Regions from separate parts of the Homo sapiens genome. Here region 1 is linked to region 2. The links come from fine-mapping of genetic effects on gene expression. A gene starts in region 2. The other region holds a variant in brackets. All regions are shown on one strand. Distances are from middle to middle.

Region 1 (2,906 bases), 140 kb after region 2:
GAAAATAATTGGACTTAGAGAAAAGGAGTAGGCTCTGCCTAAGGAAAAAATGTATTACTTAGTCCTTTATCAAACATTTATGGGTTTACTCTGTACTGTGCTAGTTGATGGGAGTGGGACTAGGGTCAAATGAGGACATGGTTTCTGTCCTCCCTGAACCCATAGCCTCGTGGCTTGGAGATGGGACACCATGGTGGCAGATGTTGTGTGTGCTTGTGAATCTGAAAGACTGATGCCTGATGGGCATCAGTTTTTGTTTGTTTGTTTGTTTGTTTGTTTTTGAGACAGAGTCTTGCTCTGTTGCCCAGGCTGGAGTGCAGTGGTGTGATGTTGGCTCACTGCAACCTCCACCTCCCAGGTTCAAGTGATTCTCCTGCCTCAGCCTCCAAAGTAGCTGGGATTACAGGCTCCCACCACCACACCCAGCTGATTTTTGTATTTTTAGTAGAGACGGGCTCTCACCATGTTGGCCAGGCTGGTCTCAAACTCCTGACCTCAGGTGATCTGCCTGCCTCAGCCTCCCAAAGTGCTGGGATGACAGGCATGAGCCACCGCGCCCAGCCCTAATGTTCTAACTCATAAGGAAATTTTACCTTCATTCACTACGAGTAGGCTCATACTATACAAATATTAGTTTCTAGAGTCCATTGATGGATGAAGAGATAAACAAAATGTGGTCTATGCATACAATGGCATATTCTTCAGCGTGGAGAAAGAATGAAAGATACGTGCTATAGCGGTAACATGAACCTTGAAGACATTATGCCAAGTGAAATAAGCTAAACACAAAAGCACAAACATTGTATGGTTTTGCTCATGTGACAGGCAAAATCATAGAGAAAGAAAGTAGAATAGAGGTTGCCAGCAGCTAGAGGGAGGGAGAATGGGTGCCGAGTTTCAGTTTGGGAAAGTGAAAAAGTTCTGGGCATGGCGATTGGTGATGGTTGCAAAACAATGTATGAACCACTGCATTAATGTACTTCATGCTCTTGAATAGTACACCTAAAAATGGTTAAATTGATAACTCTCATGTTACATATACCACACAGAAAATTAGTTTTCAGAATAGCTGACAAGCTATGCTTAGATATGTCTTTAAGGCAGGAGGAAGATGGCAGTGGTCATAGCAGTGTGTGGAAAGCAGGAGAGACCCCACATGTCACCAATTAGCTCTCCAAATCCAGAAAACATCAGGGATGAACAGCCTCCGCTGCCCATGATCCGCGAGCTGTTTCGCTAGCATTCCGAACAATTCTGGCAAAGGCGGAAACACTGGACCAGGATCTGGGTGACTCTTTCACAGTTGATTGGGTAAGGAGAAG[C/T]GCTGTTCTCAGAGAAATGAGAACATGTGTCTTGGAAGGCTGCCTTTGCTTAATGTTCTACACGATCCAGGAGGCCAGATGGCATTTTATGTGGTTTTCACAACTGTGATTTTGGATTGATTACTAAACCTGTTTGTGTTCCTAACCCAGCTCGCTGCCTCCCGCCTGCCTTTTAGCTTAACGCTCATTCCCAGAGCTCAGTTTGAACAGGCGCATTGTTTTTATTCTGTTCCTTATTATTATTGCGTTGGTGCCAGCCTTTACTACCTTCAGCCCTATTTGCTGCCCAGAGTCTAGTGCAGAAAATGAAATCCTTTTTCCAATAAGTGTGATCAAATGAAAGGCTGTCACACTGCATTTACATCCAATTCTGGGTTTTTTTTTTTTTTTTTTTTTTTGAGTTTGGGTCGCCCACATGATGGGTTGTAAAAGGATAAAGGATAATTTCTGATGTCGTGCCAGCTTTTCCTCACCCAGCTGACCTTCTACTATCAGATGGTATTTTCATAGGAAAGGCAAATTAATTTTATATCTAATGTAAGAAAAACATTATTAGGAAGATTGTAATGAAAATTAAGTAGTTTGCAAAATGTTTTAGAATTTTCATATTACTTTTGCATAAAAAACTTCTTTCAGTTCTTACAACAGTCCTGAGACAGAGTTCAGCAGGTGTCCCCATCTCATGAGGAAACGGAGGCTCAGAGAAGTTAGGGGGCATGTCCAAGGTTGCCCAGCTAACATTGGTCAGAGCTGGATCTGGAGAGCTTATCTGCGGGGTCCACATCCAGAATGCTTTCTACCGTTCTGCTGTACCAGCTGGAAAACAAAATCCCATTCGAGTAAATAATATCAGCAATAGCCACCATTTTAAGCAACTTACCAGGCCATTTACTAAATAAGTCTCCTTGTACTGTAGTAACTCTCATGACTAAGGTCTGCAGACGACCCATTTAATAGGCTGGCAAAGTGAGTCAGAGATTGCGAGGAGAGGCTGAGAGCTTCCTGGGAACATCTCTGTTGATGTCTTGAACTGGGTTCCCATTGTTCCAGCAGGGAAACTGAGGATAGCAGACATTGCAAAATGTCCTTCTGTGAAGAGACTTCTAGTCGTTTTGGTGAAAACACAGTGTCCTGCTGCCTAGCTGAAATCCTGGTATGGATAAGTTTATCTTATCATCTTTCTATTTCTAGTACTTGGCCCAGATCGTGACCTAACAGCAACTATTTGTTGAGTGGAACCTCCAAAGATAGCAGTTTCTTCTTGTGGGGAATTACAGTCTATTGATTTGCTCAATGCAAGTTCATTTTATTAAGATTTCTTCACCTGTGTGTTTATATAAATAGACAGCCAGGCAGTGCATGAAAGTGGCTGCCCGGCCAGAGTCTGGCTGGGCTGCTTCGTTCTACTCTGGGGATTGGACCCAGTAGAATTCTTGGACTTGGTGTGGAGTCCCAGGTCAAGCCAACTCATTACTTCTACCTCTCCTTTTTAAAAAGGGTTTTCTGTCTTTGGTTCAAGTTCCTCTTAAAACACAATCATCATCCCTTCATTGATAGAGGCACAAATGAATTATTTTTTTTCTT
Region 2 (2,906 bases):
TGGCGCGTGCTGCCTGGAGGTGTACCTGCCCCCTAAGGTCCCCTATTGATAGGATCGCTTTTAAATTGGAAGTGGGAACGTAACGGAAACGTCCACTCTGTTCTTGCCATCTTCCTTTTGACCTTTTTACCTCGCTTTGGTGGCTGTGAAATATTCCCGCGCAGGAGCTGGAGCGGGGAGGAGTGGGGCAGAGCACGGGAGGCACAGAAGAAATTGTCCCCGAGGAAGGCAGAGTGGGGGCGTGGCCCCAGGCTTCCAGAACCCCGAACCTTTGTCTTCTTGCCCCCTCCTGCGTCGTCCACAGCTCAGAAGGAAGTCAGCGACCAGAAAGCCCTGAACGTCCTTCGCGCCCTCGCCCACCCCCGGGCTGGGTCTCCCCGCGGGCGCGGAGATGCCGTTACACCCCACGTGATCCCTGCGCCCGGCCAGTCCTTCCAGAGGCGTCTCGCGGGGTGTTAATTAAAGGTCACAACAAAACAGACCTGCTGGCTCACCAGAAGAAATGTCCTCCCGTGAAATGAAAAATGACACCCCAGAGCAGCCACGTGTGGAGCCTGGCATACGCCGGCTTCCTGCGCTCCTGGGCGCTGCGCCGGGGGACTGGGGCGGGGGGCGATCGGAGAGGGAGCGATGACGGGGTGCTCCGGAGACCCCGCGGGGCCCAGGCGCAGGAAGAAACGGGCGGCGGGGGGCGAGGGGCCCGATCCCACGCAAGGAGAGGCCAAGGCCAGCTCGCGCCACACCCCCTCTCCAGGCCAGAGTCGTCCGCGTGCAGCGCGGCGAAGCCCTCAGTTTCCCCTGCCCGGCAGCGGCCCGCTGGGTCACCAGGCTCACCTGTCCCAGCCCCGGGCGGCTTAGTCCATCACAGACCGGGGCTCGGGCGGGCGGGGGACCAAGGGCCCTAGTCCTGCGGCTGCGGTCGGGGAGGGTGGCCCCCCGGCCGGCCCGGGGTCGGTAGGGCAATTCCAGAAAAGGTTTGCCCGGCAGCTCTCCGAGAACAAAGGGCGGGGGGAGGACCCGGCATGTTTGTGGACTTGTTTGTGACTCAATCCCTTTTGCACGGCGTTTCACAGACAGACCTGCAAGCCTTGTCAGGAAGAGAAAGAACTTGGGGGCGGGGGAGGCTGGGGCACCGCATTTCCGTCCAGCCACGCTCGCTCGCGCGGCCCCCGGGCTCCAGGCTCGCGCAGCGGCGTTTCATTAGAGCCCCGGGCCCGGGCCGCGCGCCAGGAACTTCCCCGCACGCGGCGAGATCGACGATCCCCCGCCCCCAGCCCCAGCCCGGCTCCAGGCCTCGCAATGTCAGGCACGAGCGCCGCCACATAAAATGGATCCCGGCCGGCGCGGCGAGGGCGGCAGGTTCCCGAGGCTCCTCCGCGCTGCGCCCGGGCGCACACGCGCGCTGTGACCGCCGACCGCTCCCGGGCCACGCGGAGCCGCCCCTCTCCCGGCCCTCGCGCAACTGTCAGGCGAAACGGGCCGGCGGATATTGGCTCGGCGACACGCCGAGGCTCCTCCCCGAGTCTGGATCTTTATATTTTGGGAGAATTTCTTTGAACTCAGTTACCAAGCTCGGTGAAGGAGACAAGTTCCCACAGCTGACTCGGCTCGGCTCTCCCACCTTCCCGGCAGCGGCCGCGAGCCCTGATTGTATCCCTCGCTTTCCTCGTGGGGGAGCACGGACTGACTTGGCTGAAGAAAATGCCAGTTCTGTGGATGTGGCCGTGACAAGAGGACGTGCGGCTGGAAGAGGCAGAAGGGGACGAGGAAAAGCATGCTTTGAAGAGAAGAATAAACCAGCGACCCCAACCCTTTCTGCAAATTGGTGCTATTACTTGTGGGATCCATTTGCTTTCATTCCCTCCCACCCCACCGCTGAAGAAACCTTGCCCTGAGGGCTGAGAGCCAGCCCCCTGCAGCCGGGGGACGCTTCTGGGTTGGAGGACCTTCTGGATGTAGCGTCGGTGGAACCTTTAGATACTCTCCTCTGGAAAAGCCACCATGAATTCGGTAGCTGGGAATAAAGAGAGGCTTGCGGTCTCCACCAGGGGCAAGAAATACGGGGTAAGTTGTGACGGTACGACGCGGAGACGCGTTACCAGACCCATCTCGGCGGAGGTCCCCCTTTCCCCGGGATCGTGCGGCCCCGGCCCCGAGCTCTCCCCCGCTGCAGAGGCGCCCCCGGGGCTGGCGGGGTTGTGAGTGCGCGGAGGCGGGTCGGCCGCGGGGACGCCCGCACGCTCGCCTCGCTCTCGGAATTTTTTCAGCCCTCTCGTTCCTTCCTTTCCACGCACCCGTAACTTTTGCCGCATTCCTGCACTTCTAGGCAGAGTGAAGCCGAAGGGGAGGGTTTCCCATGAATGCTGGGCAGTACCTCGGATCGTTTAGCTGGAGCCGTGAGAGCCTCTCGTTTACCTGCAGGATCCGGAGAGTTGGACCCCGTATGAATAAAAATCCTGAAATCACAGCCCTCCCCCTACCCCCCCCATAGGGTCTTCCAGGATTTTGTTCCCGGGATCTTGCTGGGATAGGTGCCGGCTTCAAAAGCGTGGGGCGCTGAACCTATGGATCCCCCCCGCCTTGCAGAAGCCGTGGAAACGGCCCCGAGCGAGTCCCCTTCCTGACCCCAGGAGGAGGCCACCGGGGACCAGCGCAGGGGTCACCTGGGCGGTGGGGACTCACTTAAGGACAATTAACGAGACAGACGGAGGGCAATTTGGCCGCAGGGCTTGGAGAGGTCCCCAACCGACTCCCGTGGGCGGTTCGAGCGGGTACTTGGTGGCGCACGTATGACCCAGCTCCTGGGCGCTGCAGCCCGCCGCCTTGCAGCCCCTGACACCGGCGTGTCTTCCCCGCAGGTGAATGAAGTCTGCTCGCCCACCAAGCCCGCAGCGCCCTTCTCCCCG

Which allele goes with the higher level. Alleles are on the strand shown, and positions count from the first base shown. SD is a standard deviation of normalised expression in the study named.
For the expression in thyroid of the gene that starts at base 1,562 in region 2, allele C in region 1 goes with a lower level than allele T (moderate effect, 0.44 SD a copy in GTEx).

What was found. PIP is the estimated chance that this variant, and not a neighbour inherited with it, causes the effect.
Region 1: its variant is fine-mapped to the expression of KIF26B in thyroid (GTEx, PIP above 0.99).

What each region holds. Positions count from the first base shown.
Region 1 is chr1:245,297,624-245,300,529 of GRCh38, forward strand. The region is part of intron 2 of KIF26B (kinesin family member 26B); the gene reads left to right. Among named protein-coding and RNA genes, the nearest start is that of KIF26B-AS1, 65 kb to the left of the region's middle. The variant C/T (reference allele first, on the strand shown) is at 1,323.
Region 2 is chr1:245,153,424-245,156,329 of GRCh38, forward strand. KIF26B (kinesin family member 26B) reads left to right here and starts at 1,562. Exons shown (of 15, transcript NM_018012.4): 1 at 1,562-2,064; 2 at 2,859-2,906. The coding sequence starts at 2,002. RefSeq lists enhancers at 1-373, 374-1,049 and a silencer at 904-1,103.